Regions from separate parts of the Homo sapiens genome. Here regions 1, 2 and 4 are each linked to region 3. The links come from fine-mapping of genetic effects on gene expression. A gene starts in region 3. Each other region holds a variant in brackets. All regions are shown on one strand. Distances are from middle to middle.

Region 1 (8,085 bases), 51 kb after region 3:
CAGGAGGCAGAGGTTGCAGTGAGCCAAGATAGCGCCACTGCACTCCAGCCTGGGAGACAGAGCAAAACTCCATCTAAAACAAACAAACAAAAAAACATTTTAAGATGCCCTACTGCTCCACTCCTCCAAGCTAAGTTTCCGGGGCTCCCGGCTCAGTGATGGCATGAAAGAACTAGCAGCTACAGGGATGATGTCGTGGTGTCCCTAGCCTGGACTCTACAGTCAATTTACAGTGAGAGGATAGAGTGTTCTTTGTTTCCAGAGCGTGCTGAGCAGGTGCTGGTAGGAAGGGTAAGAATGGGGTCAGGATCATAAAATGTCCCAGGACAGGAGAGAAGAAGCAAAAACCGTGTCTACTGAAGAAATCTTTGAGAGTCTCTACACACCCAGAGGAAAAGGCTATAAGTTGGGAGTCACTGATAACTGCCCCGTCTGACCCAGGTAGTGTTACTAGAGGAGTAAACTCGGTGCCCTAATCCTCACTCCTTCACCCACCACCCTAAGCATCTCTACTTTATTCTGCAGTCAGGCCCTCCGATCAGACCTAACCAGAATTAGGGAGAGTTCATCTATACAACAAACTTGTGCTACATACATTCAGGATATGTTGGCCTTAGCTTGAGATCATGCCTCTTCAAGACACTGTGTTCATTCTTACAAGCCATACAATATTTACTGTATAGGAATTAAAACTAAGAAATGGGCCGGGCACAGTGGCTCATGCCTGTAATCCCAGCACTTTGGGAGTCCGAGGCAGGTGGATCACCTGAGGTCGAGAGTTCGAGACCAGCCTGACCAACATGGAGAAACCCTGTCTCTATTAAAAGTACAAAAATTAGCAGGGTGTGGTGGCGCATGTCTGTAATCTCAGCTACTTGGGAGGCTGAGACGGGAGAATCACTTGAACTTGGGGGGCGGAGGTTGTAGTGAGCCGAGATCGTGCCGTTGCACTCCAGCCTGGGCAACAAGAGTGAAATTCCATCTCAAAAAAAAAAAGAATAAATAAATAATAATAATAAAAATATAAAAATTAGCTTGGCACCTATAATCCCAGCTACTTGGGAGGCTGAGGCAGGAGAATCCATCTCAAAAAATATATATATGTTTTTATATATACATATATGTAAATATAAATATATAAATTATATACATATAAAAATATATGTATGTATATGTTGTAAATAGAGAAGGGGGACTCTGTGTTGCCCAGGCTGGTCTTGAACTCCTGGGCTCACGTGATCCTCCCAGCTTGGCCTCCCAAAATGCTGAGATTACAGGTGTCAGCCACCAAGCCTGACCTTTTTAATTTTTAATTTAATTTAATTTTCATTTATTTTTCTTTTTTTGCGTCTTGCTCTGTTGCCCAGGCTGGAGTGCGGTGGGGTGATCTTGTCTCATTGCAGTTCTGACCCCTCAGGTGATCCACCCACTTTGGCCTCCCAAAGTGTTGTGATTACAGGCATGAGCCACCTTGCCTGGCCTCATATATATTTATATTTGTTTGTTTTGTTTGTTTTGAGACAGTGTGTCGCTCTGTCGCCCAGGCTGGAGTGCAGTGGCACGATCTTGGCTCACTGGAAGCTCCGCCTCCCGGGTTCACGCCATTCTCCTGCCTCAGCCTCCTGAGTAGCTGGGACTACAGGCGCCGGCCACCACGCCCAGCTAATTTTTTGTATTATTAGTAGAGACGGGGTTTCACTGTGTTAGCCAGGATGGTCTCGATCTCCTGACCTCATGATCCACCCGCCTCTGCCTCCCAAAGTGCTGGGATTACAGGCATGCGCCACCACACCCGGCTAATTTTGTATTTCTAGTAGAGACAAGGTTTCTCCATGTTGGTCAGGCTGGTCTCGAACTCCCAACCTCGGGTGATCCGCCCGTCTCGGCCTCCCAAAGTGTTGGGATTACAGGCGTCAGCCACCGCCCCCGGCATATATATATATATATATATATATATATATATATATATATATATATATGTATTTTTTTAAAATAGAGATGGAAAAATAACTATTTACCAAAATCAATAAATATGTCGTGAGAATAATGGCATTGTTTTACAGGGGGGTTGGGGGGAGACACTGTTTTTCTCTCCTCTCACACCACCACAACAATCAACAAAGAAGGCTACTGTGTGACCAAATGTGTTGGTTTTTTCCCCAGTCCACAAGCAAGCAGTTCCAGCTGGGTGTCCTCTTGTTTAATGCCAACACTGTCTACCTGGAGATAACCTCAGATCTCAAATGTTTAGGGTGCAGATCTCAAGACCGCCCTCCCCACCGGCCCCCCGGTACTAGTTTCTTTTCTCTCCTTTTTTCTTTTATTTCTTTTCTTTTCCTTCCTTTTCTTTTCCTTTCTCCTTCCTTCCTTCCTTCCTTCCTTCCTTCCTTCCTTCCTTCCTTTCTTTCCTTTCTTTCTATTTCTTTCTTTGTCTCTTTATTTGTCTCTCTCTGTCTCTCTCTTTCTTTTCTCTCTCTCTTTTCCCCTTTTTCTTTTCTTCTTTCTCTCTCTTGTCTCTCTCTTTCCCCTGCCTCCCTCCCTCCCTCCCTTCCTTTTTTTTTTTTTTTAAATCAAATTATTGTTTACCAGACATGGCCCCTGACTTCTGATGCTAGTCAAAAGCCCCAGGCTGTTTTACCTATGCCTCTGACTGACCAGCTGTAAATCTAGGCCCCCACAACTCTACTTGGGCTTGGTTAACTTGCTAGGGTGGCTCATAGAAATCAGGGAAACACCTACTTACCTTTACTGGTTTATTATAGAGGCTATTTGAAAGGATGCAGATGAAGAGGTGCCTAGGGTGAGGTATGGGGGAAGGGATGTGGAGCTTCCGAGCCCTCTTCCGGTGTGCCACCTTCCAGGAACCTCCAGGTGTTCAGCTATGTGGAATCTCTGAACCCAGTCCTTTTGGATTTTTGTGGATGCTTCATTATGCAAGCATGACTGCTGAAACGATTGGCCATTGGTGATCAACTCAACAGTTCAGCACCCCCTCCACTCCCCAGAAGTTGGGGGTGGGCTGAAAACCCCAACCTTCCAATCATGCCCTGCTCTTTATGGTGACCAGCCCCCATCCGGAAGCTACCTAGGGCCTGCCAGCCATCAGTTAACATTAGCATACCAAAAAAATCACTTTAGAGATTTAGGAGTTGTATGGCAGAAAATAGGGTCAAAGAAACGTATATTTCACAATATCACACTGTTTCGATAGGAGACAGCTCGATTTTCACATCTGCTTCTATTAGCTATTAGGATATATTGTTTTGATTGAAATACATGAAGAAAATTTGGTCTCACACAGACATGTAACTAGAAGAGCACTTCACCAATCCCCTGAAAGGTTCTTTTGGGGACCACAACTTCAGAATTGCTGTTCTGAGCTTTCAGGCTCTACGTGCACACACTTTGAGGAGCAGACACAACAATCCTTGTCATTGCTTTGGTGTCTTTTTTATCCAAAGTTTCAGTCTCAGGCAGTAGAGTTTACAGTAGTGAAGAATGCGACTTTCCCAGGTGTGAGGGCTCACACTTGTTATCCCAACACTTTGGGAGACAAAAGCAAGAGGATCACTTGAGGCCAGAAGTTCAAGACTAGCCTGGTCAACAGAGTAAGACCCACATCTCTGCAAAAAATAAAAAATTACCCGCGCATGGTGACCCATACCTGTAGCTGGGGAATGCAATGAGCACTCCAGCCTGGCAGCCTGGGTGACAGAATGAGACCCTTTCTCAAGAAAAAAAAAAGGTGGGGCCGGGCGCAGTGGCTCAGGCCTGTAATCCCAGCATTTTGGGAGGCTGAGGCAGATGGATTACCTAAGGTCAGAAGTTCGAGACCAGCCTGGCCAACATGGTGAAACCTGGTCTCTACTAAAAATACAAAAAAAAAAAAAATTAGCTGGGCGTGGTGGTGGGCGCCTGTAATCCCAGCTACTTGGGAGGCTGAGGCAGGAGAATCACTTGAATCTGGGAGGCGGAGGTTGCAGCGAGCCGAGATTGCACCACTAAGTTCCAGCCTAGGCGACAGAGTGAGACTCCAACTCAAAAAAAAAAAGAAAGAAAGAAAAAAGAAAAAAAAAAGGAACACAAGCTTTGGAGCAGGTCAGCTATTCATACCCAAATACCTCCCCTTAATCTTTTTCTGGCTTATGTATAAGGTAGGAATAATAATAGTATCAGTGTCAACCTAAAATAATCCGACGGGTCAGAACCTAATTTAGAGTTTTTTCAAGTGCGAAGTATGAGAATGGAACACCTGGAACCACCAACTCCAGAAGAATGGAGTCAGTGTTGTGAAGTAAGAAAGTTAAGATTTCATTTATATAGGCAAGCACACATGACTTTTTAGCAGGATTACATTTTTCACAGAAGATTGGTACATAGTTATAGCAATTTGGTTGGCTATAGACAATGTTTCTTTTTGGGAAGTATACATGTAACTTTTTTTTTCCAATTTTTTTTTATTTGGAGTTTCGCACTGTTGCCTGGGCTGGAGTGCAGTGTCAAGATCTTGCCTAACTGCAACCTCCGCCTCCCGGGTTCAAGACATTCTTCTGCCTCAGCCTCTGGAGTAGCTGGGATTACAGGCACCTGCCACCACACACGGCTAATTTTTTGTATTTTTAGTAGAGATGGGTTTTCACTATTTTGGCCAGGCTGGTCTTGAACTTCTGATCTCGTGATTTGCATGTAACTTTTTTTTTTTTTTTTTTTTTTTTTTTTTTTTTTTTTGAGAGGGAGTCAGCCGGGCGCGGTGGCTCACGCCTGTAATCCCAGCACTTTGGGAGGCCGAGGTGGGCGGATCACCTGAGGTCGGGAGTTCGAGACCAGCCTGACCAACATGGAGAAACCCCGTCTCTATTAAAAAAAAAAAAAGAGAGAGGGAGTCTTGCTCTGCATCCCAGGCTGAAGTGCAGTGGAGCGATCTCGGCTCTTTGCAATCTCAGCTTCCCGGGTTCAAGCAATTGTCCTGCCCCAGCCTCCCCAGTAGCCGAGTAGCCGGGATTACAGGCATGAGCCACC[A/C]GTGCCCGGCGCATGTAACATTTTTTAACAGAGGATGAAATAGTCATGGATTTCCTACACTTCAGCCTGGGCGACACAGCAAGACTCCGTCTCAAAAAAAAAAAAAAAAAAAAAAAGAGTTAATCTATAATCTGAGAACAGAAGTTGTAAACTATATGTGACTCGCAGTCATATCTCTCTCGAGGCTTAAAGTGTTTTTTGGGCTTCCAATAGCTCTTAAATTTTTTTTTTTTTTTGAGACTCCGTCTTGCTTTGTCGCCAGGCTGGAGTGCAGTGGCGCGATCTCAACTCACTGCACCCTCCGCCTCCCGGGTTCAAGCGATTCTCCTGCCTCAGCCTCCTGAGTAGCTGGGACTACAGACGCCTGCCACCACGCCCGGCCAATTTTTTGTATTTTTAGTAGAGACGGGGTTTCGCCATGTTAGCCAGGATGGTCTCAATCTCCTGACCTCATGATCTGCCCGCCTCGGCCTCTCAAAGTGCTGGTATTACAGGCGTAAACCACAGCGCCCGGCCTAAATTTCATTATTTTCTGTAGCTTCTTGGCCTTTTGGCTAAGGCTCGTAAACATTTTTTTTTTATTTCTACACCAATTTCTGTAGATTATTATGAGAATTAAGGGAGAGAATTATATCAAGCGCTTAGCACAGTGTCTGGCATCTAGGAAGAAAGTAGTAAGTGATAGCATTTATTTATTTATTTATTTTATTTATTGAGATGGAGTTTCGCTCTTGTTGCCCAGGCATCTAGGAAGAAAGCAGTAAGTGGTAGCATTTATCAATCTATCTATCTATCTATCTATCTATCTATTATCTATCTATCTATCTATCTATCTATCTATCTATCTATCTATCTATCTATCTGTTGAGATGGAGTTTCGCTCTTGTTGCCCAGGCTGGAGTTCAGTGGCAAGATCTCGGGCCGCCTCCCAGGTTCAAGCAATTCAGATAGTTGCCGACCGGGCGCGGTGGCTCACTCCTGTAATCCCAACACTTTGGGAGGCCGAGGTGGGTGGATCACCTGAGGTTGGGAGTTTGAGACCAGCCTGACCAACATGGAGAAACCCCATCTCTACTAAAAATACAAAATTAGTCAGGTGTGGTGGCACATGCCTTTAATCCCAGCTACTCGGGAGGATGAGGCAGGAGAATCGCTTGAACCCGGGAGGCGGAGGTTGCAGTGAGCCGAGATCGCGCCACTGCACTCCAGCCTGGGCAACAGAGGGAGACTCCGCCTCAAAAAAAAAAGTTGTCGTTTGATGGCTGGGGGGCGGGGGTGAGGGGCGGGGCTTAGTGGTTCTCGCCCACGACGGCGAGGCCCAATCAGACCCGCGGAGCTGGTGGAGTTCCGCCCTCGCGGAGGAGGTGGTGTTCCGCCCTCCTAGTCGCAGCAAGCGCGGAACTGGGGTTGCGGCGTCTAAGTGTTTCCGGTGGATTCCCAGGGACTGTCGGAGGTGTGGACTCTGCCTGCCTACCTGGTCTGGGAAGATGTTCTACCATGTGAGCAGGGCTCAGGGTGGCGGCAAGGGCTGGGTGGAAAGGAAGAGCAAGGCCAGGCGCCGGCGCGAGACTCCCCTTGTCGTCCAATAACCTGCCAGCGCCTGGCCTGGTCGCCATCCCACTTTTCTCCGCAGATCTCCCTAGAGCACGAAATCCTGCTGCACCCGCGCTACTTCGGCCCCAACTTGCTCAACACGGTGAAGCAGAAGCTCTTCACCGAGGTGGAGGGGACCTGCACAGGGAAGTGAGTGTCGAGCTCACCGCACCGCCAGATCGTTCGATGCGCACACGGGGCGCTATACCTGCAACCCCTCCCCAACTCCTACTCGTCCTGCCACCCACTCTGGGGACCCCTCTCCTCTCTCAGGCAGCCAGTTGCTTCCTGCTTTGGGTTCCCAGGGCGCCCTCTGCAATGCTGGACAATAAGACTTCCTTCTCTCAGCTGAGATGGGTCATTCATTGACTCCTCAAACATTTTAAAAACCCTTGGTGTGTGCCAGGACCCGTGTTGGGCTCAGAACAAGGTAGAATGGGAACAAGATAGAATGAGGACAGCCCCTGTGGAGCTCACAGTGTAATCATTGTTCCTGTGTCTGCTCTCCCTCTGTCATTCTGCTGGTTTTCTCTTATCCCCTGTGCCCAGGGACCACACACCATGGGCCTCTATATATCTTCTGAATGAATGACCAGAAAAAGCAGATCGAGAGTTTGGGGGAGGAAGGAAGTAGCCTGGGATTTGACCATCTCTGGGCTTTGCACAGAGGGGCCTCTCTGATATTAATGAGCTGGGACCCAGCTCAGGGCAGTGGAGTACTTGGGCCTCCAGCATCAGAAAAACCTGCAGGAACATGCAGATTCCTGAGCCTCCTTATTCCCTACAGAATCAAGACTGTCTGGGGCAGACCTGAGAATCTGCATTTTAAGAAGATGATTCTCAGGCATCCCGAAGATTGAGATCTGTTGCCTCAAGGACTCCAGCCTTCTTGGACATTTATTGTGAAATTACCAGAACAGCATTTGGTCTTACACATACTGATCTCTGTTCTGTCTTCTTTTGGTCATTAAGCTCTCTGGGAGCAGAGGTGCTATCTACTTGTCCTTTTGCTCTCCCCGACCCTACCCCCAAGAGCTCAGCGACTTTTATTGCAGATGTCTTTAGAGGCTCTTGGACACACAGTGTCTTCCTGTTTCTCATCCTCCTTGCAGGTATGGCTTTGTAATTGCTGTCACCACCATTGACAATATTGGTGCTGGTGTGATCCAGCCAGGCCGAGGCTTTGTCCTTTATCCAGTTAAGTACAAGGCCATTGTTTTCCGGCCATTTAAAGGGGAGGTCGTGGATGCTGTTGTCACTCAGGTCAACAAGGTGAGACCATACATAGGGGAGGCAGTGGGGTAGTCTCTCGGAAGATCTGGGTTGGGTTCTGGCTCCACTTCATAACTCTGTGCCTTTGGCTAAGTCACTTCACTTTTTTTTTTTTTTTTTTTTTTTGAGAGAGTTTTGCTCTGTTGCCCAGGCTGGAGTGCAGTGGTGCGATCTTGGCCACTGCCACCTCTGCCTCCTAGG
Region 2 (8,100 bases), 170 kb before region 3:
CTTTGGCATTGTGACATCATATTCTCCCTTTACGTTAGGGCCTTTCAGATGTAAGTCCACATCAGGCATGGAGATCTTGGGGACTTTGATGTTCATCTCAGGCATCTTAAACTTGGGCCCTTTCAATTTCCCTTCTGGTTCCTCAATGCTCACATCAGGAGCAGTAACATCTATCTTGGGCCCGGAAATGTCCACATCAGCCTTGGGCAGGTTCACATCCACTTCTGGGCCCTCTGCTTTGAACCCTGGCACACTGAATTTGGGCATTTTCATCTTGGGCATCTTCAAGTGCCAGTCTGGGCCATGAACATCCACATCTGGGGCATCAATGTCCACTTTTGGGCCTTTGAGTTCTCCTTCCAGCTTTGGTACAGTTACATCATACTCTCCCTTCACCTTTGTACCTTTCACGTGCAAATCTACATCAGGCATGGAGATCTTTGGTGTCTTGACACTCATATCAGGCAGCTTAACATCGGGGCCTTTAAGTTTTCCCCCCAGACCCTCCAAGTTGACATCTGGGGCTTCCACATTGACCTTGGGCCCTGAAATACTGATATCTCCTTTGGGTAGAGTCATATGAACATCTGGACCTTCCCCTTTGGCTCCTGGAGTGCTGAACGTGGGCATTTTCATCTTGGGCATTTTCAGGTTCCATTCTGGGCCATGCGCTTCGACATCTGGGGCACTGACATCCACTTTGGGGCCTCTGACATCAACTTCAGGGACTTTGACTTTCCCTTCTACTCTGGGGAGTGTGACATCTACACCCCCTTTCACTTTAGGTGCGGCCACATTTAAGTCTACTTCTGACATAGAGATCCTACAGGTTCCGGTTTTCCCGGAAGGACTGCCAAGCCTAGGGCCTGTCAAGGTTCCCTCTAGGTTTGGTGTCTCTATGTCCACTCTGGAGCCTTTAAGTGCCACTTGAGGGCCTTTAACATCACCTTGCACCCCAGGAGCAGAAACCTTAATATCTCCTTTCAGTTTAGGAGACCCAAGGCTCAGATCCACATCCTGCATGGAGATTTTAGGTTTCTGAATAATCATTTCAGGAGTCTTCACTTTAGTACCTTTCATCTTTCCTTCCAGCCCACCAGTAGCAATCTCAGGCAGGCTGACATCCCCAGAGACCCCAGGAACAGTCACTTCACCTGTAGGCAGTGTCACATCAATCCCAGTTTCCTCTCCCTTTGCACCTGATACAGAGAACTTGGGGACTTTCATCTTGGGCACATTCAGTTTGCTCCCAGGCCCCTGAACATCAATGTCAGGGGCCTGAACTTCCACACTGGGGCCAGTGATGCTACCCCCAATTTGGGGAGCAGAGGCATCCACCCCAATGTGCCCCTGTGGCTTGGCACCTTTCAGGCCTAGGTCACCCTCAAGTGATGGCCCAGTGATTTGGGGGCCCTTCAGCTTCCCCTCAAGGCCCTCAATATTGGCAGAGGGCACACTGACTTCCAGCTGAGGGGCTTGGATAGTCAAGCCTGGCTTGCCGCCCTTGTGCCCCACAGAGACTTCAGGTGCAGAAACCCTCAGCCCTGCCTTTGGTGTCTGGCCCTCACGCCCTGTTGAGACACCAAATTTCGGCACTTTCATGGTGGGAAATTTAATTTTGCCATGATCACCACTCTCCAGAGATGGGCCCTGTACCTCTACTGCCCTACCCCCAAGAGAAGATGAAATGTCCACTGCTGGAACTTGGACCCCTCCTCTGCCACCCAAGTCCAAGCCCTTTGCATTGACATTGACACCTGAGCCTCCCACCTTTATCCCAGGCATGGTGACCTGGAGCTTCGAGTGGCCAGCACCTTGGAGCTCTGGTCCTGAAGCAGAAATGGCCCCTGCTCGGATATCCACAGCAGAGCCTGTCGGAGAGGCTGCCCCCGAGCCCGAGGGCAGTCTGATCACGGTCTTCCCAGACTGGGTCTCCACATCCACATTGGAGATTTCAGTCAGTTCATGTCTTGGAATCTTGATCTTGAATTCAGGGCTACTGATGTCTATGTCCTTGGCTCCTTCCCGGCCAGTCACATCCACAGTGTAGGCCGTGACCCTTCTGGTCACTGTGATGGTACGGCTCTGGGTCTCCCCGAGGTCTCCTTCCACTCCATCTTCCGACTTCAGCCGTGGCTTGATCTTCGTGGTGTAGATGCGCTGGTACTCCTCATCATCCCCGCTCTGCAGAAAGACACGCCGGGCAGAGGTTGCAGCAGAGTCTGCCTGAGTTAGCAGATGCCCGGCCACAGCCCAGCCGACAACACGTTGCCTGTTTCCCAGAGAAGCTGGGACCAAAACAGAGGTCCATGGAGCCTCCTGGGGCACAGCACAGGGGAGTGAAGAAAGGGGCTGACAGCCACATCACAGGAGGAAATCAGAAATTCTCTGGAGGTCATACCGCTAAGCAAAAACCGTGGGGAGGGAGTGGGAGGTATACTCTTGGACTGGGAGGATTTCCATTCAGTTAGAGATTCAAATCAGCCTGTGCCAGGGACACCTCCCAAGAGACCAGGCCCTTCAGCTCCCAACTCTCAAGCCACTGGCTTGTTTGTTTAATCAGGAGGGGAATCTTCTCAGAGGCCCTTGGACCCTGAAAGCACTCGTTGAGCCTAAGAGACTGGTTGTGCTTGGGTTAACAGTCTCACTTTGAGGACCCATTATTTGTTAAATAAACAAGCCATCAGAAGGACCAATGTCCCCACAGGCACTTTGCTGCCCAGCGTCTGACCCACAGAATGTATCAGGCCTCTGCAGAGAGAAAAATGGTGTCTGTGAGGTGGAGCTGGGCACCTGTGAAGTCATTTCAAAGATTCTTGCAAAGCAGCTGACCTTCCTCCTAGCATCTAGGGCCGGGCTGCACAAGTCAGTTCCCATACTGTGGCCGCTCTGAAGAGACTGATTGAAGACATTTAGAGGGAGCACAGCCACATGTCACACGAAAGCGGAAAGAAACAGGGTGGCCAAGGGCTCAAGAGAGTGAAGACAGGTGAGAGGAGAAGAAGGAGCAAAAAGAGAGGGTCCGGAGGCACATGGAAGGCTCAGGAGTGGGGTCAGCAGGCCGGCATGGCCGGGGGAGCTCAGGGCACAGATGGGCCGGCGAGGTACTCACCAGAACCACTTCAGAGCTGCAGGAGCTGAAGACTTCACGGGTCCAGGTCTGGCCAGGCTCGGGAGAGCGGTCCCCCTTGCGGTGCAGCTTCAGGCCCACCGTGTGGTGCCCCATGGTGTTCAGCAGCTGGGTCACCTCACCCGACTGCAGGTTGTCAAAGTAGATGGTGGCACCCACAATCTGGTCCCCTGAGCAGGGAAGAGCAGGAAGCAGGTAAGGCCCAAAGAGCCTCAGGGAAACCGCACACAGCCACCACACACTGGGCACTGAACTGACTTGAACTCATGACCACCCTGCAAGGTGGGCATGGTAATACCCATTGTACAGACACGGAAACTGAGGCTTAGAAAGGCCAATTTGTGGGGGCCAGGTGCAGTGGCTCACACCTGTAATCTCAGCACTTTGGGAGACCGAGGCAGGTGGATCGCCTGAGGTCAGGAGTTCGAGACCAGCCTGACCAACATAGAAAAACCCCGTCTCTACTAAAAATGCAAAATTAGTCTGGTGTGGTGGTGCATGCCTGTAATCCCAGCTACCCTGGAAGCTGAGGCATAAGAATCGCTTGAACCCAGGAGGCGGAGGTTGCAGTGAGCTGAGATAGCGCCATTGCACTCCAGCCTGGGCAACAAGAACAAAACTCCATCTAAAAAAAAAAAAAAAGGCCAACTCATTTGCCCAAATCTGCAGAGCTAGTGGGTGGTGGAGTCAGATCTGAGGACCAGGTGTCCACTACCCCACACAGCTGCCTCCCCTGAGGACCACAAGTGACAGACACAGAGTGGCCAAGGGAGGGCAGGGCTTGGGTACCAACCACCCTGATGCCACTGGGAATGGGCCCTCGACAGCCACTCACCCACTTCTGCCTGCTCCCTGCCCTTCCCTCCAACACCCCCACCGACCCCCCAACCACCAGCACCCAGTCCACACCCTGGGGTGACTCACCCTCCTTGACCACCCCAGTGCGGGCCGCAGGGGAGTTCTGCGTCACCTCCTGCACAAAGACGCCGTCGTCCCTCTGGGCGATGGTCAGCCCGTGGGAGCCACTACCCTGCCAGTTGGGCAGCAGCAGCTCCCGGGTTGTCTCCTCCTTCTCCATCTGGAATGAGGTGAGGAAATGGAACTGGGGTCAGTGGGGGTGGGAGGACATGAGGGCATGGGAAAGCTAGCAATCTCTGGCGCTGTGAACTCCAGGGAGTGGGGCCCTCAGCAATGCACCTGCCCCTGCAGCTGGCTCACCTGCCAGGTGAGGTGTTGGGGGTGGGGTAATTCGTCTCACGTCCTTCCACTGTGGAAGTTCTCCCAAGGCACAGCAAAGAAGATGGAAAGGAGACAGCAGAGGCAACTGGA[C/T]CCGGAGGTAGCTGGCCCTTCATCCCTGTCCCCCACGGCCCCAGCCTCCCATCCACACAGGGCCCACCCTCCCCACATCCCGTCACCTCCGCCTCTCTCTGCCTCTCCCACCTACTGACCTTTGCAGGATTCCGCTCAGGAGCGAATGCCTTGCCAGGAGCCCGCCCCTCCTTCCTCTCTTCCCCTCAGTCTCTCTCGTCGGGAATCTCGGTCACAACCTAGGGAAAAGTTCACGATGATGCTCGCACTCCGGTCGGCAGTCTGCTTGCTCCAAGTCTCTACCCAAGGGATAGCCAGGTCCTCTGCTACCCAGGCCAGCTCAGAACCCGACCCCCACCACCGCCGTCAATTCCACTCGTCCATGACTCTCCAGCCCGGCATAGCAGAAAGGGGCTTCAGAGGAGCCAGACTTGCAGTCAGATCCTGGCTCTGCCTCCTTCTAGCTGTGGGACCCTGGCCAAGACACTTCAGTTTTCTGAACCTCCATTTCCTCATCTGTGAAAATGGAGGCAATAAAGGAGAAAAAATAGAGCACTGGCCGGCAGGAGCCGCTTCACATGCACACTCTTGCCACATTCTTTTTATTTATGTATTTTATTTATTTTATTTATTTTTTTTTTTTTGAGACAGAGTCTCGTTCTGTTGCCCAGGCTGGAGTGCAATAGCGGATCTCGGCTCGCTGCAAGCTCCACCTCCCGGGTTCACGCCAGTCTCCTGCCTCAGCCTCCCGAGTAGCTGGGACTACAGGCGCCCGCCACCATGCACCACACCCGGCTAATTTTTTGTATTTTTAGTAGAGATGGGGTTTCACTGTGTTAGCCAGGATGATCTCGATCTCCTGACCGCATGATCCGCCCGCCTCGGCCTCCCAAAGTGCTGGGATTACAGGCGTGAGCCACCGCACCTGGCCTCTTTTTATTTTTTTGAGACAGGGTCTGGCTCTGTCACACAGGCTGGAGTGCAGGGGCGCAATCACGACTCACTGCAGCCTCGACCTCCTGGGCTCAAGTGATCCTCCTGCCTCACCCACCCAAGTAGCTCGGACCACAGCCACGTGCCTCCACAACTGGCTAATTTTTGTATTTTTGGAGAGATGGGGTTTTGCCATGTTGCCCAGGCTGGTCCGGAACTCCTGGGCTCAAACAATCCCAAAGTGCTGGGACTATAAGCAGGAGCCACCACGCCCAGCATCTACCCACATTCTCAACCACAGCTTCAAGAGGGAGATGTTACTGTGCCAATTTCACAGACAGAGACTGAGTCTCTGAGAGAACAGCTTACCCGGGGTACACATGAGAGCACAACTATGCTGGGCTTGGACCCGAGTCTGTAACTCCTTTTTTTTTTTTTTGAGACGGAATCTCACTTTGTAGCCCAGGCTGGTGTGCAATGGCACGATCTCAGCTCACTGCAACCTCCCCCTCCCAGGTTCAAGCAATTCTCCTGCCTCAGCCTCCCGAGTAGCTGGGATTACAGGCGCCCGCCACCATGCCCGGCTAATTTTTTGTATTTTTAGTAGAGATGGGGTTTCACCATCTTAGCCAGGCTTGTCTTGAACTCCTGACCCTGTGATCCACCCGCCTTGGCCTCCCAAAGTGCTGGGATTACGGGCGTGACCACCGCACCCGGCCGACCGAGTCTGTAAGTCTTTTGCCTACTCCACCCCAGGTCTGCTGCTTGTAACAGGTGGGAGCCTCCTCAGAGTCTGCCTCCAAGCAGGAATGTCAGTGTTCCACCTCCCTCAGAGACAGAGACTTGGGCCACCCAGTCTCACCCAGTACCCAGGACCAGGGGGGTGCCTCACCAGCTGGCAGCTCTGGGAGCCCTGCCACAGGCAGCTGCCTGAACAAAGGAGGCCCCGGCCCCACCAGGCACCGCCCAAGCCCCAGAGGTTAGAGCCCAGCTGAGCCCACCTTGGCCCACAGTGAGTTCAGGCCTCCCGGCTGCCACACCAGGCCCTGAGCCAGGCCCTTATAGGTGCAAGCATTTAGTAATAAATTCGCCCTCCAGCCACAAGGTGAGCTGTCATCTGCAGGTGCCCTAGAAAGACACCAGGCAGGACTCTGCATAGGGCCACGGACTACAGCCACAGCACAAAATGGCGGCAGCAGCCACCAATTGAAATGGTGTGGGGGACACTATAAGTCATGGGGAACCTAAGCCAAAGCCCCGCCTACAGCCGTTTACATCCGGAAAGTATCAACAGTCAATCAATGCATGTATACCGGCTGCCTCCATATGCCCAACACTATACTTTGCACTACAGACGGAACCAGCCAGGGATGGACACAGCTGGGCCCAGCACCTAATTACACGCTGCGTTAGACGGTGACCTCACATCACTCACGCACCCATGTGCCAGACAGGGAGATTTAAGACTCAGTTCCTGTCACAGATACATATGATGAGCAAAGTGCACTAGCTGTGACCGATTTTGCCGCAGAATATTCCAGAAGGCTTGGGAGCCTTCTAGGGGAAATGAAATATACATGGGGTCTTGAAGGTGCTACAGGTGACCTCTGAGGATGAGACTATGTCTCTTGGGAATTCGTGGGCACTTAGCAGTTCCTATCTCAGGCAGATCACAACACGGATGAAAGAGAAACACAGACCCCAGCCCCCGACAGCCATCCTCCTGTTTGACAACGCGGTGTGGACAATGTGTCTCCTTGTCAACACAGGTGCTGGCTACAAGGTGAGCAAAGACTCTGAGCCTCTGGGCTCAGGTGCAAACTGGCGAAAACACCTCCTCCCTTCCGGCTGCAGAGAAGGCTGCGACAGGAAATCACTCTGACCCTTCCCAGCAAGAAACAGCAAAGCTGGGGCTTAAATGGCACATTCTCTCCCACTGTCCAGTGCTCAGGAGCCAGCCCTGCAGAAAAGCAGCCAGGCAGAGGCAGGGAAGGAAAACAGATTCCAGACTTCATCTCTCAGACAGAACTGAAGCCACTCCTTCAGATCGCCCAGACACCCCTGTCCTCCTCCTGGAGCAGGGCCCCTTTGCTCACCCCAGCATCCTGGTGCTGTGCCAGCAGCCAGCGAGGGGGAAAGAGCTAGCTGGGCCAGCTCACCCTCGCCCACACCTCGGCCCCACCCTCCCGCCCCAGTGAGTCACTGCAGCTGGCTGCAACAGCTCCAGACCTGCAAAGGGTTGAGCCTAAAACCCCAAGGACAAAGTGCCTCCTGGGCCAGACCCCCAGGTGCCAGAGGAACCAGGGCTGCCCTGCAGACAGGCAGTTGGCTTCCCTGCCAGGGCCTCAGGCAGAGTCCCAGGGCAGAAGTCCCTTTTGAGGCCCAGGACAGATGCAACCTACGTGGTTCCTGAGGAGGGGAGAAACCATCCTAAGTAGACACCGATCCAATAGCCCGTGAGGACGGGAGCCATTGGACCCGAAGCTGCAGGTTGGCCCTGGCAGGGCACCCAGTGGCTTCCCGGCCAGGTGGGGCTGCCAACCACCCTGCCTGCTCTGGCTGTGGCCCTGCTGTCCTGGCACAGCCTGGAAGGACTCCCCTCTCATCTGACCTGGGCCATTCAGTTCCGCGGAAGGGCATGGAAATACTGAAGGGAATACTGAAGGAGGGGCGTGGGATACTGTGTAGCCAGGTTTCCCATTCTCTGCATTTGGGTCCCAGCCCTCAGT
Region 3 (8,095 bases):
AACCCCATCTCTACTAAAAAAAAAAAAAAAAAAAAAAAAAAATTAGCTGGGTATGGTGGCAGGTGCCTGTAGTACCAGCTACTCAGGAGGCTGAGGCAGGAGAATGGCGTGAGCCCAGGAGGCGGAGCTTGCAGTGAGCCGACATGGCACCACTGCACTCCAGCCTGGGCGACAGAGCAAGACTCCATCTCAAAAACAAAAACAATAACAAAACAAAAAAAAACCCATCTCTACTAAAAATACAAAAATTAGCCAGATGTGGTGGCACACACCTGTAATCCCAGCTACTTGGGAGGCTGAGGCACGAGAATTGCTTGAACCTGGGAGGTTGCAGTGAGCAGACACTGCACCACTGCACTCCAGCCTGGGCAACAGAGAGAGACTCCACCTCAAAAAAGAGAGAATTTGGCACTTGGCAGGGTTTGTAAAATGAGAAGGAACCTAAGGGGCCAGTCAAGACGCAAGACTCTCTGGGAAGCAAGTTTATGCGCCTACTCATCTTATGTTTCCATAATCTCTATTGTGTAGCCGACTTTCAGGGACTGAGAGGCAGTAATGTAAAAAGCAAACTGCTGCTTTCCTAATAGCTCCTCTACTGAAAGCCAGGTTGGTTCTGCACTAAAGGGTTGAGTTGGCTCAAAATTCTACATTGGCCCTGAGAGAGGGGTGATCCAACCAAAATAGAATTGATCCTCATAATGATAGAAGTGGATATTTTTCCTTTTTTTTTTTTTTTTTTTAACCAGAATTCAGTAATCAGAGGTAGAACTAGAACCCTAGCCCTGGCAACCCAAATCTAGCCTTGGGCTGTGAAAGTTGAGAGGCCCTGGAAGCACACCTGGCTCCAGTTTTCCTTATCTGTAAATGAGGGGATTGAACTGAATGAACTCCAAGGGCCTTACAATTCCCATAGGAGTCCTCTATTTTGATAGAAGGCCCCTCTCACCTGTAGTAGAAATGCACAGGGCTGAGGTGGCTGACTGTCGGCATATAGGAATAGTAGAAGGAGCCATAGAGGAAGACAGACACCCAGAGCAAAAGGAGGATGGTGCAGAAGAGCACCCCAAACTGCAGCAGCAGCCTGCGGGCACGGCCTGCCAAGACTTGGCCCACCTCCTGGGCCCACAGTAAGGCAGGTACTGGAGGGTCGTTGACCATGGCCGGGAGAGCAGGGTGTCTGGCCCCAGGTTCAGGCCTTGCGTTCCTAGCTGCTCTGCCACCTGGACGCCACCCCTGGCCATGGGATGCAGCAGCTGGTGGTTCCTGGAAAGAGAGGGTGAGGGAAAAGAGTGACTCCTTTCCCCAGGGAGGTGGGGACAAAACAGCTTACTGGACTGGCTTTGAGGAACGAGAGATAGCAGGATAGCAAAGTCATTGTTTCATATATATGGCCTTTCTCCAAATGATTGTGCCACTCTGCCAATTACCCCTTCCCTTTCCTCCACTGTGTTCCCTCCCGCCCAGTGCTAAATCTCCTCAGTGGAATTCCTTCTCCAGTCATTTGATGCTGGGACAAACCACCTTGATTCTCATTCACAGCTATATAACAAAGAATAAGCACCTTACGATTCTTAGAAAGAGCTTTACACACACGGTGATACTGAATCCACACTGCTAGGCAGCTGCACGGAGAGAATGTGCGACTTGCCTAAGGTCGCACGGCCTGACTCGAAACCAGTAGCCTTAGAGTAGCCACAATTGCTTCCCGAGTTTCTCCTCTCCGCCTCGAGCAGAGCTCGCTCACCGACACGGCTACACCCCACGCCCGGCGGAGCGCCCTGCAGCCAACCGCCGCTTCCCGCCAGTCCCCTCCAGCTCGGGGGTGGGCAAAGCGCCCGGAGCCCCTACCTAATCGTGCAACCATGGAAACCAGCCCGCCGGCTGCCACAGGGCTGCCGACTCACCAGCCTCGCGCGCTGCCAGGGCAACCGTGAGACGGGACTTCCGGCTCCCGGGGAAGTCCCGCCCCTCTCCGCCGGCCGCTTTTGTAGCCGTGGGAGGCGGGGCTTCAGCCCAGGGCGGGGTCCAGCACGGCGGGGCGGGGCGGGACGGGGCGGAGCCTTCCCGAGCTGCGAGGTCGCTGTCTCCTTGCGCTCGCCACTGGCTCTCTCTGCGGCAGGTTTCCCTCCGGTTACCGTGACCAAAGGGGAAAGACGCCTGCCTCCCTGCAGGCCCCAAGATGTGCCCCAGGGGATGCGCTGACTGCAGCCTCCGCTCGGCTCTCCCTTGAGACTGCAATCACAGCCCTCCGTGCACACCTTCACCACAGGCCATTTCACCCGCGAAGCGGCCGAGTGAGGCGGTCATCCAGCTGGCGCTGATTTTTATCGCCCACAGCTCCTAGGACCTGTAGGCATCTAAGGCGGGGGCATTCGCCTAGAGCATGTTGCAGTTTGCGGCAACCTGGGCCTCTTGCGTTGTTGCGCAGGCAGATTAGTGCCCTGTTCCCAGCGTGGTAGCATTGTGGACCTCCTCTGACCCTAACTGGATACACTCTCCCTCAGAGTCCCCACAGCACATTATCTAGACTAGCTTTTGGCAGTCTTCTATTTTGTAGACGTCTAATCACCCCAGATAAAGTCCTTCAGAGGCAAGGCCAGTGTTGTGTACATCTTTGCACACTGCTGCGGGCGTGGGAAGTAATCTATTCAAAATGAATGAAATTCTTAAAACCAATCCATCCCCCCGCCCCCTTCACGCCAGCCCACCTATTTCCAGTATATTTCTGCTGACTGTCCCCACAAGGGCCCCTACCTCCTCTTTGTCCGGTCCTTTGATCTGGTCTCCGCACACCTCTTTTTCCCCAGCTTCCTCCTTTTGGTCTACCTTTTCTGTAGACATCTTCCTGACGAGCCTCTGTTGACTCTGGATCTTCCACTGAGTCACTTGTGGCTAAAACGTGAAGTGGCGATCCAGACGCTGATACCTGTGGCGCATCACATTTTCCTGGATATGGAAAATGGAGGGTCCCTGGGAGAGAAACGAAGATTCAGGTGCTAAGTGCTGTGTCAGAGTAGAGGGAGGAAAGGAGGAGGGGGGCGACTGCCCAGCTGATGTCAGATTTTCAAATGAGCAGGGTCCCCCGCAGCCAGTACAGACTCCACTGCAGGGGCCGTCATAGGCCCAGACCACGCCATTTGAGAGGGGGAGTCGGCCTTGGCCTCAGCTCTGTTGGGGAGGTCTCTAGCCCAGAGTCAGGATGCCTGCAATGGGGGAGGGGCAGGCAGTGAACTAGCGACAGTGGGGGTGTGCGCAGGGATGCAGGCAGCTAGGCTCCCCCACTGGCCAGGCAGTTGGTATGCTCCAGGATCTGAGCAGCTCCTTCTAGCATCCTTCATCCTTCAGGTACCAGCCATCCAGACAGTGCTTGAGCTGCAGAAACTGAGACCAGACCTCTGGCCTGGCCCTCCCCAGGGGCCTCCTTTCGTATAGTCACTGCTTCTGCATCAGATACTTTCAGCTGCAACTCCCTACTGGGTGGGGCACCCATTTCAGGCAGAAGGTTTTGGTACCCTCCACTGACCCTACACCCAGGGCTGCTACTGCCGCTTGTGGCTTCAGGTAAGTAATGGCCTGTTTTTCTCCTGTTGGGGCTCACTGGAGCAGACAGGGGTGATGTGCCCTCCTCATCAGGGTTGGTTGAGGTCTTCAGAGCTGGGAACACACATGGTTTGAAGGGCTGAAAAGCCTTAAATCATTTGTGTAAGGTTTAATGATCTGTGGCCCAGGCCATGAGGGAGTTTGGGGAGCACCTCATCCCACCCTATTTTTTTCCATGAGGAATACAGGGATGAGACAGTCCACTGGAGGAGGAGGAGGAGGATAGGAGGGGAACAAAATATTGGGGTATGACCACAGCCTTGTAAAGGTTGGTGTGGAGTGAGCATGGAGGGGGGCCTCCAGCTGAGACTGTGCTCTGAGAGGTCCCTCTTTTTTCCAGGATGAAAGGTGAGACCCCGGTGAACAGCACTATGAGTATTGGGCAAGCACGCAAGATGGTGGAACAGCTTAAGATTGAAGCCAGCTTGTGTCGGATAAAGGTAGGTGGGACCCTGGCTGGCTCCCATTAGTTGGCCAGGCTGTGCTGTGCTGCAGGTTCCCAAAGCTCAAGATAAGAGATGCGTTCTTTCCTTCACTCCCTGAGGTCAGGGGAGGAGTCTGGGGCTCTGTAGAGAGAGCTGTCCCCAGGCCTCTGGGGGGGATGAGGGAGAAGACAAGTCGTAAGGAGCCCTGGAGATGGCAAAAGAGAACCCATTTGGGGAGGGAGGCTGCAGTCCCCTTCAGAGGTCCTGGCTAACAATACCCTTCCTGGCTGTGTCCCAGGTGTCCAAGGCAGCAGCAGACCTGATGACTTACTGTGATGCCCACGCCTGTGAGGATCCCCTCATCACCCCTGTGCCCACTTCGGAGAACCCCTTCCGGGAGAAGAAGTTCTTCTGTGCTCTCCTCTGAGCTCCCCTGTCCCTTCTCACAACTCCTCCCTTTTCCCTCTCCTGGGCCCTTCCTTAGGTCAGTAATTGTTGTGAGCCCCTTAGGCTCCTTGCATCCCATCCCTAACCCTTGCCTGACCATGTGAGGTTATCTGAAGCACAAGGCCCACCCTCACCTATCTGTCGACCCCATTTCCTACCACCTTTGTGGCCGACCCCAAGCACCCCAGAGATATGAGGCACCCTTTGCTCCACCCACAGCAGGGCCCCGTCAGACTCTGCCAGCGCGTCCTGCCCGCTTCCCTCGGTGACCTGCTCAGACAATGGAGAGGGATGGGCCAGGTTCTTGCTCTCAGTCTCACCTGGAGCTACTGGGAGGGTAAAGCCATTTGAAGAATAAAGTCATCCAGAGCCTCAGGACAGCTCCTGTGTTAGAATTCTTGGGGGGAGAGGATCATCAAGCAATAGATCTGCCATACCCAGGGAAAAGGGCCAATCAATGCAGGCTAGACATCGTCAAGGATCGGAGATCAGAGGGGTCGGGGGATGGCGGGCGCGAGAGAGCGTCCACAGTGTAAGAATTAAGTACAAAAGACGCTCAAGAGGCTGCGAAGAGCAAACACACACACACAAACGTGCAACGAAGCCAAGTTAAAAGGTAAACAGGCCGAAGAGGGGGGATTTAGGGGAGGGTGCGGGAGTGCAGTCGTACAGCAGAGGAACTCTTAGGAGGGTAGGGGCGGAGCTTGGCTTCAGTTACCGCGACTGGAGCCGATTTTATACCTAAGATGGCTGCGCCCACAGCCACTCCCATTCCAAGATGGCCGTACCAACATGGCAGCCCCCACGTCACGGAGTTTACCGTACAGGGCTTCTCTTAAAATGGCGGCCCCCAGGCAACCGGCGTTCTCAATATGGTCCCTTCCGCCCTCTTCTGGTCTCAAAATGGCTGCCCCTGCCCTAACCAAGCCGGGGCCCGCGCCCTGCAACCCCGAAATCTGGATTTCGGTGTCCTCCCGATTGAGTCGAAGGCACACGGGCGGCCATAACGAAGAATCACTAAACAAGGGGACCCCAGGAAGTACAGCGTGGCCGACGCTGGTCGCGTGGATCTTGCGAGGGAATCTAGGTTTCTACATTTTGCCAAGAAAGGAGAGGCTCCCTTTGGAGCGGAAATATTAGCGGCAGGGGGTTAACCCCCGACCCTGTCCGTCTCGGTGCACCGCTCCTCAGTTGCTTCCTGGTCTTCCCAGGAGCTGGATAAGCCTGAAGTTGCTCAGTTTGGGTTTCCTAGTAGAACTGGGGCTTGTTTTTGCTTTCATTTTCCCCTCAGGCCGATTCAGCCACAGCAGCCAGAAAGCAGTGGCCGCACCCCTAATGTGCCTTGCAAAAGTCCAGCATGCTGTCTGGGCAGGGACCAAACTTAAGGCTTAACATGTCATGGTCATCTCCAGGACTCAAACATGGCGGAGGTTTACGAACACCAGAATGCCTCCTAGAATCTTTTCCTTCCAAGGGTGCACAGAGGCGAGATGGGACCAGGGACAAGACAAAGAACGTAACAATCCCAGTACGTGTGCTCCTGCTAGAGGTCCCCTAAACTCAGGGACGCATCCTCCCCAGGAAAAGCCTAGGCTGGCTCCTGTTTTGTGCCTGGATATACTTCGGGAAGGGAGGCTGCTTTGAAATAGTAGGGACAGCTCATTACCTCCAGCTTCCAGGTATCTTTGCACAGAAGACAGCAAAGTGGATAAAGGAAACCAAAGGAAGAAAGGTTGTTATCACCAGCAACTGAACTTAGCCTCCTAAGGATATCTTCATGAATTCCAGGGACACCCAGTGAACTTGGGTCACCTTAAGGTGTCCCAAGCAACTTTTTACTGTTGATGGAACTTCTGAGCTCTAAGAAGTCCTGGAGATCTTCTAATTAATTCCCTCATCCTAGAGATGAAGAAACGGGAGAAGTTTGCCCTCCTGGAGTGGGACCCTACCCCCATTCTGTTGCGGAGGAGCCTCAGTTCCTTCTTGGCACGGTGAAAATTCCAGGAAGGATCAATCAGGTCAGGTCCGTTTTAATCCCTGTATCCTGATAATGGCACATATCAGGCACCCAAATACCCAATGAATAGATTGTACTGTACATGCTTAAATGGCAAATGTGGCATGGCAGGGACCAAGCACCTTGCCTCCCTCACCCCCACTGTATCACGGTGTTGGGCAAGTTCCAGGGGAGTAAGTGAAATTTTCCACAACAGCTCAGACATGGTTAAATAAAAAAAAAAAAAATTAGAGTGTTTAATAAATGTAACCTTGATTTTTAAGAAAGCCTCTTTTTGGCCGGCCGGGCGTGGTGGCTCATGCCTGTAATCCCAGCACTTTGGGAGGCCGAGGCGGGCGGATCATCTGAGGTCAGGAGTTCGAGACCAGCCTGGCCAACCCGGTGAAAACTGTCTCTACTAAAAATACAAAAATTAGCCGGTGTGGTGGCGGGTACCTGTAATCCCAGCTACTTGGGAGGCTGAGGTAGGAGAATCACTTGAACCCGGGAGGCAGAGGTTGCGGTGAGCCGAGATTGTGCCACTGCACTCCAGCCTGGGCAACAAGAGCGAAACTCCGTCTCAAAACAAAACGAAACAAAACAAAGCGCCTCTCTTCAATTTTTCTGCACACTCAATGTTCCTACCCATCAGATTATAACTGCGTGGCTACAGCGCTAGGTGGGAAAATGGGGTTTAAGCAGTAACTAGAGACCAGGCATGAGCTATGATTAACCACTTTAAAAAATGATTAATTAGCTCTAACAGCAACTTAAATGTCCTAAAGAATAGATGGCTACCAAAATTAAGGGTGGCCTTCAGGGTACAAAACTGTAAACCCGGGTATCTGAATCCGTGTCACATACAGAGGGTAGGAATTAGAGCAGTATCTACATCAATACTACTACTCCTTCAGAACACTGGATGTCATGAGCCTGTGGTATCTCAGCTTTAAGACCCTGACCATTTATTAGAAACTGCCGTTAGGATCATTTCAGTGCTAATAATGCAATGGTGGCTGGGAGCGGAGGCTCACACCTGTAATCCCAGCACTTTGGGAGGCTGAGGCAGGCAGATCACGAGGTCAGGAGTTCAAGACCAGCCTGGCCAATATGGTGAAACCCTGTCTCTACTAGGAAAAAAAAAAAAAAAAAATTAGCTGGGCCTGGTGGCACACATGTGTAGTCCCAGCTACTCGGGAGGCTGAAGCAGAAAAATCGCTCGAACCCAGGAGGCGGAAGTTGCAGTGAGCCGAGAGCGTGCCACTGCACTCCAGCCTGGGTAACAGAGCGAGGCTCTGTCAAAAAAAAAAAATAAAAATAAAAATAAAAAATAAAAAAGCAATGGCGCTGTTGTAAATTTAATTTACCGTCTCGTTCTCCAGATTCACTGGAAAATAACCCCCATCAAACTTCTGTTGAATGAGTGGGCTTTCCCCCTAGCAGTAATTATTCATGAATATACTTATTTGGCTCCACAATGTACATTTAACTTCAAGCATCCAACTAGTTTTTGCATAGGCCAAATACAGAGGTCGTGAGTTATAATTTATTTTCCTATACTTCAATGGCTCGACTCTTGGCCTAAGCAAGCACTAAATAGACTAATAACTACCCACCCATGTCAACT
Region 4 (8,100 bases), 160 kb before region 3:
CTCTGCCTCCAAGCCCGATGACAACGCAGGCAGAGGTGACACATCCAGGCACGCCACAAGGGGAAGACCTTCATTCACAACCAGTGGGATACTCTCTCACAGGCAATGACACACATCTCACTCAGAGACAAGCTGTGACATGGTGGTCACAAGGACCTAAAGCCACAGTGGGACGACACCTGCAATGCTATCAGTGACCTACCTAAGACTGCCAGCGACAGCTCAGCCACAGCCCTGGTGGGAACTGAGGCCAGCAGGGAGGAAAAGGGGCTTCATTCCTTCGGAATCCTCTTGTGGCCCACCCACGTGCCCCCCACACTCCCTCGGGCACACCCAGGAACGCTGGAAATTGCTCGTGCTCAGGAAGCCTTGGGAGTCCCACCGGATGGCCTGAGCCCAGGGAAATGCCAGCCTGGATGAATCGATGGGGGACGAAGAGAAGTCAGAAGGCCCTCCATCCCTGCCACTGCCACCGCCCAAGCAGCACATTCTAAATCCTCCCCAGCGGCCATCACCCTTCCTCAAACCTAAGCGTGCACAGCACGGTGCCAGCCCAGCTCCGGGGAGAGAAACTTTGGGGCCTCGGGAATGGTGGGGGAGAGAGCCACACTGTTCCCATAAGGAGTAGGACTAGCTCTCCCGGTCTGTCTCTCTGTCTGTCTCCAGGCAGTTCCCAAGTTCTAAAGAAGGTGGTGACCACACCCCAGAGCCCCACACACCCCTCCGCCCCCACGGCTTTGCCCCAACCCCTCAAACCAGCTCCTCAGGCTCAGGGTGACCGGCTCTGCCAGGACCCACCAGCCAATTCCAAGTCGAGCAAAAGAATCCAGCCTGGCAGCACCGCCACCTTTCCCCAGGACTTCCTGAGGGCTAAGATGACTCCGGGGACCCCCAGCCAACTCCGTACCCTGGGCTGACGCTGGACCTTCTCCCTCAACAGGTCCCTGTGTCCCACCCCTGGCCCTGGACCATGTCTGGCTGCCACAAGTCCTCAGCTCCGAGGGGTTGGCTCCTCAAGGAGTTCCCGGACCAGGACCCCTGAATCGCTGCTGTGGGCCTCCATATCAGCCCGCATGACTTATGTGGCTCCCCATGTGTCCCTGTTCTCTGACCAGTGTCCCTGTGCATAACCTCTTAGGGACAAAGGCTTTAGAGAGGGGCTCAGACACCCTCTAACCCACATTCCCACAGCCCCCAAACCCTGCGACCTCTCCTAGCTCCACTCTTACCCTCCCTAGCTCCTCTCCCACCCTCCCTCACCCCAAAGCTCACAGCTCAGAGCAAAGAGGTGCCCCTAACTTGGGGGCTCCCCTGTCCTCCCCATTCTGCACAGGCCACTATCCACGCGGTGGGGGGTGGGTGACCCCGCTGTCCCTAAGGACTGGAGAAGGAAGCTTCCCCCCATTCAGCTTCTGAAAGGAAGTGAGTGCCACACCCTGCCCCTGGGATTTCCCTCACGGGGAGGGGATGAAAGCGAGATCTCTACCCTGAATTACAGCCAGTATAGGTGCAGGGGCCCTTAAACGCCTTCCCCCACTCTCAGCTTCACTGCTGCAGCCCCTCACTGTATTCCACAAAATCAACCCAACACCTACCATGCACTAGGCTGTGCTGGGACGGGCAAGCAGAGAGCAGGAGCCCTGCAATCCGAGGTTGGATTCTAATGAAGACGGGTTCGAAACCAGTATTTACTGAGCGCCCAGCGCTGTGCTGGAGACACAGAGGTAGATATCTCGGTCCCTTTTCCTCCGGAGACTCCGGAGGTCTAAGGACCTGACTGACTTGGGAGGCTCCCACACTGCCTTTCCACAAATCCCCTCCACAGAGCAGGGCACTCTGCAGCGACCGCACGCTCCCTGGGAGCACCTCACTGCCACGGTCGCCGCGGCGGGAGCCACACCCTGCGAAACCGGCAAGCACACACATCGCACACAACCCTCAGTGGCCTCATTGTGCAGAGGGGCCAGAGCCGTTCCCCACCTTGTTGTGGGGCCTCGGCTACAGCTGAGAACACCCATCTGCCCCCTCCGCACCCCTCCCAGCAAGGGGCACAGCCAGCCCTGTTTGGGCCCCTGGAGTCCCTCATGGTCAGCGCCGCCAAGGGGCTGCGCCCCCACATCCCGGCCTGGGCACTGCTGGGGGGCGACCAGCCCTGCCAGGGACGGCCCAGGCCCTCGCACACTGCACACACACACCCCCTCCCCTTGCATGGGAAAGCCTTACATAACACAGCTCTGCACACACCCTAAGCACGCTGCCTTTCCAACTCTAGGCGAGACCTCGCTTCGGGCCCCCTCTCCTGGCGCGCACCGCTGGAGCGCAGGGTTCCAGCGAGCGCAGCTTAGCCCTCCTCCCACGCCAAGCCCGGCTCCTGCCCCCAACTCCCACACACAGCCCCTTCCTCCTCCCCTTTGCCCCTCACCACTCCTCCCTGAGTTCTGGTTTGAATTAGTCACCGGCTCCAACCACCACATTCCTCAGGCTGCTGGCGCCGGGCCAGGCTCTGGGGCGGGGGCCATCCCGCCCGGACGGGTTTGGGAGTTGGGCGGGGGGAAAGCGCCGCCTCCGGAGGGGAAGGGGCGGTCCCGAGGACTGGGCCGCCGCAGCGCACCCCCCTCCTCGCCCACCTCAGCATAGGAATCTCCCTAATTTTGTCCCCCTCCCCACCCATCCCGCTGGGAGGCGCATTGCAAACTTCCAGGTTCCGCGGCCCGAGAGGAAGGTTTTCTGGAGCGGGGAACGCGGAGAGGCAAGGCTAGGGCGGGGCAGCTGGAGGAGGCTGAGGGGCTGGTGGTACAGAACAGGGTGGGGCCTGGACGACTCGGGACGCGGTTAGGGGCAGAGGTGCAGGGAGCGCGGAAGGACAGCCGAGGGGGCGCACGGTGCGGGGTCGCGGAGGCGCGGAGGCGCTGGGGGCCGCGGTGGCGATCTCGGAAATTTCCCCTCCAGTAAACATGGGATACGAACGGAGCAGCCCCCGAGCCACCGCCCCATGCAGGGAGAGGAGGTGGGACAGAGGCCACCAGGCCCGGAACGGGGCGCCCTGCCTTGCAGTGGAGCCAACAGTCCGCCCTCCGGAGAAATAAAGAGTGGAGCAAAGCACTTCGGAGCGATTTTCCAACTTTAACCAACTTGCGCCCCAACTCCAGAGGCAGAACTCCGCTCCCAGAGAGCGACGCGTCGCCGCCCCGGGTGGCCCCGCTTGCTCCAAACTGCTTGAATCCTCACAGTGACACCCCCAACAACGCGCCCTGCCGGAGCACCGCAACCCACCTCCCCGCGACCCGCCCTTGGTGCCCCGGACCCCGATGGCGCCACGGTGCGCCTGGCGCCCCTACCTGAGGGCTCAGCCCCAGGGCACGGCCATAGCCGGCGCGAGGCCCAAGGCTGCGGTGCTGCGGCTACTGGCGGCGACGAGCCCCGTTCCGGGCGGGTCTGGCAGGGCGGGCGGTGCAGTCCCCGCGGCAGAGCAGCTCCGAGTGGCCGGGCCCCCGTGCGCGGAGGCGGCTCTTGTAACTCCGGCTCG[G/A]GCGGGCGGGTCTGCCCGGAGCTGTGGGGAGAGGGCGGGGCCGGGCGGGGCCGGAGCGGGGCTGGGACTGGCGAGCGGGGCAGACCCTGGAGGGACCCGGGAGTGGGCTGCTGGGGAGGGGGGCCGCTGGGGGACGCGGGGACATTCTTTCCCCCCCTCCCCGCATCCACTGCCCCCTGTCCTGTCCCGGACCTGGACCTGCTCTCCAACATGTGCACTGTGTGGCTTCATTGGCAAGAAACTCCTGCAGGCTCCCTGGGCTCACCCTCACAGCTGGAACTGCGAATCAACTTATTTTGCAGGAAGGGCCTGGGGGCTCTGAAGGTGGCTGGGTGATTCAGCCGCGACCGTCAGCTTGCTCCGGACCTTTGAGTTTTCTCTCAGCTTAGGCAACTACACTTCAGATCCCAGGCCCCAGCCTCCTTGCTTGGTTCCCAAGCTCCGTGCTGCCGCGCCCATTTCTCGCGTTCTCTCTTTCTGGGGGCCCCTCCGTCCATATCCGCACAGAACTGGCTTGGATTTCCACCCCCCAGGAGCCGGGGTCACCAGTGCCTCGCGCACCGCGGTGCTGCGCAGGCCGCGGGCATACGGGGGTGAGGACCCCGGGCGTTGGACAGCGGACCCGACGCCCACCTTCCTCTCCAGACTCCCGCCCCCAGGAGCCAGAGCCCCAGCGCTTCCTCTGCCTCCCATTCCTTCTCTGAGCGCCGCCCCCGCCTCCCCACTTGCGGGACGCTGAGTCTCCTAATTTACAGCGATTTCCCACAGCCACTTCTAACTACATCGAGATTTTATTAAACGTTTAATGATGGGGTGCGGGGGCCTTCTGGCTACACACTCCCCTCCACACTCCCTTTCTCTTCTCCCTCATGAGTCCTTTTATCCTCCCTCCTAGGTGGCCACCCACTGCCCGCTCCAAGCCAGTTTCCCCTCCTTCCCAAATGCTAAGGAAAGAGAGACCCCAGGCTGGGGAACTAAGGAGACCTGGCCAAGGCAGGAGCGCCCTCCTTGCTGCAAGATCATGAGTGGGCTGGAGCTGAGACCAGCTCGGCCCTGTCCTCTGAAATGGCAAACATGTTTACAGGCTAAAAATACCCAGCAGTCAACTCTGCTGCCAGCCCTGGGGGCTGTGTCCAGGTCCAGTTACCGGCACAGAGTACAGGCCGTGGGGGAGGGAAGAGACAGCCAGAGGAACCACAGACATGGGCACTCATATAATGGACACAGAAAGGTGGAGCCGCATGTGCAGACATCCAGACAGGCAGAGACATGTGAAAACACAAAGCGGAGACTTGGGCACCAGCATTTTCTCTTGCTCTCTCTAATACACACACACAGGTGCCCAGATAATGACTCAACCCCATGGCAGAGGCAGCCTCGCCACAACACATCCCAAGCACACAGTCACAGACTCACACTTTCCCAAGAATCACCTGCTCCCCCATTTTGTTCTGCACCCCTTTCCTAGCACCTACCTTATTTAAAGAAAAAACAAATCTAAAACTTTTGAGCTATAGAACACTTAAAAAAAAATTACCAAGGCCAGGCGCGATGCCTCACACCTGTAATTCCAGCACTTTGGGAAGCCAAGGCAGGTGGATCACTTGAGCTCAGGAGTTCGAGACCAGCCTGGCCAACATAGTGAAACCCCGCCTCGACTAAAAATACAAAAATTAGCAGGGCATGGTGGCGCAGCCTGTAATCCCAGCTGCTCGGGAAGCTAAGGCAGGAGAATCCCTTAAACTTGGGAGGCAGAGGTTGCAGTGAGCCAAGATCGTGCCACTGCAGTCCAGCCTGGGTGACAGAGCGAGACTCCATCTCAAAAAAAAAAAAGTACAATAAAACACAGACTTCTCCCTCCTCCCCTATCACAGTCCCTCTTCCCAAAAGTAACCATTGTTAACAGTTTACCAAAGGATTTTTAACTTTATGGAATGAATCATCATCTCGTTCCTTGAAAGAGCGAATGTTCCCAGTGCATATTAAAACAGGAGTTGATTCACACCTAGGTTGGAAACACAGGGTATCTGCAAAAAGGGCTAAGGGGGCGTGGGGGGCTGCTAGAGCAGAAAAGGAAGAAGAGCACGGAAAGGCGTGGACGCTGTGTCTTCGCCTCGACTGGGCTAGATCGGCCCCCCAGGATCCAAACAGCAGAGGCCAGAGTCCCAGGCTCAGAGCCAACTTATCTGCTCCATTGTTTGTTCTGGCCACCCTCTTGGTCAACAGGGAAGAAGGCAGGAGGGAGAGGTTGGTTTTTGAAGCAGCCCCAGAGCAGAGATCACTGACCAGGTACTTCATTCAGGGATATGAATGTCAAGATTACCTGGTCGGGGGGTAGTTCTGAGGACTGGCTCTTGTCCCATTCCAGACTGGAGGGCTAGAGAAGGCTTAACCTCAACCCTACCCTCTAAAAAACCATGATCCTGACCGGGGGCGGTGGCTCACGCTTGTAATCTCAGCACTTTGGGAGGCTGAGCGGGGGCAGATCATGAGGTCAAGAGATCGAGACCATCCTGGCCAACATGGTGAAACCCCGTCTTTCCTAAAAATATAAAAATTAGCACTTTGGGAGGCCGAGGCAGGCGGATCACCTGAGGTCAGGAGTTCAAGACCAGCCTGGGCAACATGATGAAACCCCGTATCTACTCAAAATACAAAAATTAGCCGGGCATGGTGGTGTGCGCCTGTAGTCCCAGCTACTCGGGAGGCTGAGGCAGGAGAATCGCTTGAACCCAGGAGGTGGAGGTTGCAGCAAGCTGAGATCGTGCCACTGCACTCCAGTCTGACAACAGAGCGAGACTCTGTCTAAAAAAAAAAAAAATGATCCTGCAGGCTGGAACAGAGCTGGGGTTTCCTAAGACTGCCACCTCAGCCCAAGGGAGGGGAATATTTTCAAAAGTTTTCAGTGGTGTTAAGTGGAGAAACGCACACTTTTAGAAACTTCTGCCAACTCTTCTCCTTCTGCCCGCTGGTGTAGCCTCCCCCACACCCCCTCCCAAAACTACCTTAATATGATTGTGTCTGATCCTGCAGCAGCTACTTTCGTTGGTTTTTTTTTTGTTTTGTTTTGTTTTGTTTTGTTTTGTTTTTTGAGAGGGAGTCTCGCTCTGTTGCCAAGCCTGGACTGCAGTGGCGTGATCTTGGCTCACTGCAGTCTCCACCTCTGGGTTCAAGTGATTATCCTTCCTCAGTCTCCCAAGTAGCTGGACTACAGTCGTGTGCCACCATGCCTGGCTAATTTTTGTATTTTTTAGTAGAGATGGGGTTTCACCATGTTGGCCAGGGTGGTCTCGAACTCCTGACCTCAGGTGATCCCTGCCCACTTCAGCCTCCCAAAGCGCTGGGATTACAGGTGTGAGCCACTTTGTCAGGAGCTACTTTCATCTGTCAGCTCATTTAATCCTTGCACACCCTGGGAGGGAGGCACTTAGTGAGGAATGGTCTCAGAAAGGGTTCGTGATTTACCTAAAATCACACAACTCACAGAGGCAAGAGTCAAAGCTTCCGCTAGCATTTAAGCCTCATGAGGACAGGGTTCTTTCTTCTCTGCTGTATGCTTTGTGCCTAGATTAACTGATTTTTTGTTTTGTTTTGGTTTTTTGCTTGTTTTTTTTTGAGACAGTCTCACTCTGTCGCCCAGGATGGAGTGCAGTGGAGCATTCATGGCTCACTGCAGCCTCAACCTCTCAAGCTCAAGTGATCCTCCCACCTTAGTCTCCCAAGTAGCTGGGACTACAGACACACACCATCATGCTCAGCTAATTTTTTTTTTTTTTTTTGGTAGAGATAGGGTCTCACTATGTTGCCCAGGCTGGTCTTGAACTCCTGGGCTTGAGCAATCCTCCCACCTCAGCCTCCCAAAGTGCTGGGATTATAGGTGTGAGCCACCGCACCCTGGCCCCTCATGCCTAGAGCACTGACTGACACATAGCAATCACTCAAGAGCATGTTTCAAATGAATGAATGAACTCCAGGTATAACTGGCTCCAAAGCCCTTGCCTTTTCTACAATAGATAGCATCCTGCATCCCAGGCTGTCACAACTTCCTCTGGCTCTCAGCCCCCAGGGAGCAATTCCTCTACTTGTGGGTCTTTCTTGCAGCTACCCAAACATTTATTGTGTGTCCAATATGGGGTTGGGGAACTGTGGTGGTGGTGGAAGCAATAGAGACCTTGGCAAGATGGAATCCCAGCAAAAAGCTCAGTCCAGGCGGAAACGGCTCCGATACCCCTTTACCTTGTCCTTTGAATTCCTTGGAGGTCCTATGCCTCCAGAGAATTGGAGTTATCTTTCCTACCAGGTAATTTACACAGCTACTCCCCCGCCAGCACCCCCCCGACACACTATGTTTTGGGTGTTTTTGTTGTTTTGTTGTTGTGGTGGTGGTGGTGGTGGTTGTTTTGAGATGGAGTCTAGCTCTGTCGCCCAGGCTGGAGTGCAGTGACACGATCTTGGCTCATCTTGGCTCACTGCAACCTCTGCCTCCTGGGTTCAAACGATTCTCCTGCCTCAGCCTCCCAAGTAGCTGGGATTATAGGCACGCGCCACCACGCCTGGCTAATTTTTGTATTTTT

Direction of the effects. Alleles are on the strand shown, and positions count from the first base shown. SD is a standard deviation of normalised expression in the study named. Not every link is listed here.
As copies of T replace C in region 2, the expression in macrophages of the gene that starts at base 3,070 in region 3 goes up (large effect, 1.3 SD a copy in Alasoo 2018).

The links.
Region 1: its variant is fine-mapped to the expression of BSCL2 in whole blood (TOPMed, PIP above 0.99).
Region 2: its variant is fine-mapped to the expression of BSCL2 in macrophages (Alasoo 2018, PIP 0.95).
Region 4: its variant is fine-mapped to the expression of BSCL2 in whole blood (TOPMed, PIP 0.97).

Annotation. Positions count from the first base shown.
Region 1 is chr11:62,755,143-62,763,227 of GRCh38, forward strand. POLR2G (RNA polymerase II subunit G) reads left to right here and starts at 6,438. Exons shown (of 8, transcript NM_002696.3): 1 at 6,438-6,518; 2 at 6,653-6,762; 3 at 7,725-7,884. The coding sequence starts at 6,507. RefSeq lists enhancers at 1-306, 1,685-2,211, 6,447-6,646. The variant A/C (reference allele first, on the strand shown) is at 5,020.
Region 2 is chr11:62,531,891-62,539,990 of GRCh38, forward strand. It overlaps AHNAK (AHNAK nucleoprotein), which reads right to left. Exons shown (of 5, transcript NM_001620.3): 2 at 4,579-4,677; 3 at 4,055-4,208; 4 at 3,113-3,300; 5 at 1-2,184. The coding sequence starts at 4,208. Among named protein-coding and RNA genes, the nearest start is that of AHNAK, 11 kb to the right of the region's middle. RefSeq lists enhancers at 3,434-4,633, 7,212-7,814, 7,815-8,100. The variant C/T (reference allele first, on the strand shown) is at 4,460.
Region 3 is chr11:62,704,355-62,712,449 of GRCh38, forward strand. It overlaps BSCL2 (BSCL2 lipid droplet biogenesis associated, seipin), which reads right to left and starts at 3,070. Exons shown (of 11, transcript NM_001122955.4): 1 at 2,755-3,070; 2 at 947-1,263. The coding sequence starts at 2,841. GNG3 (G protein subunit gamma 3) reads left to right here and starts at 3,322. Exons shown (of 3, transcript NM_012202.5): 1 at 3,322-3,561; 2 at 3,941-4,040; 3 at 4,324-4,847. The coding sequence starts at 3,942. The coding sequence ends at 4,452. HNRNPUL2-BSCL2 (HNRNPUL2-BSCL2 readthrough (NMD candidate)) reads right to left here. Exons shown (of 24, transcript NR_037946.1): 14 at 2,755-2,970; 15 at 947-1,263. RefSeq lists a silencer at 1,774-2,113 and enhancers at 1,781-2,454, 3,774-4,973, 5,104-5,743.
Region 4 is chr11:62,543,322-62,551,421 of GRCh38, forward strand. AHNAK (AHNAK nucleoprotein) reads right to left here and starts at 3,485. Exons shown (of 5, transcript NM_001620.3): 1 at 3,339-3,485. RefSeq lists enhancers at 1,992-2,502, 2,503-3,013, 3,592-4,122, 7,850-8,100 and silencers at 2,157-2,286, 2,817-2,936, 2,947-2,996, 3,277-3,346, 3,467-3,636. The variant G/A (reference allele first, on the strand shown) is at 3,527.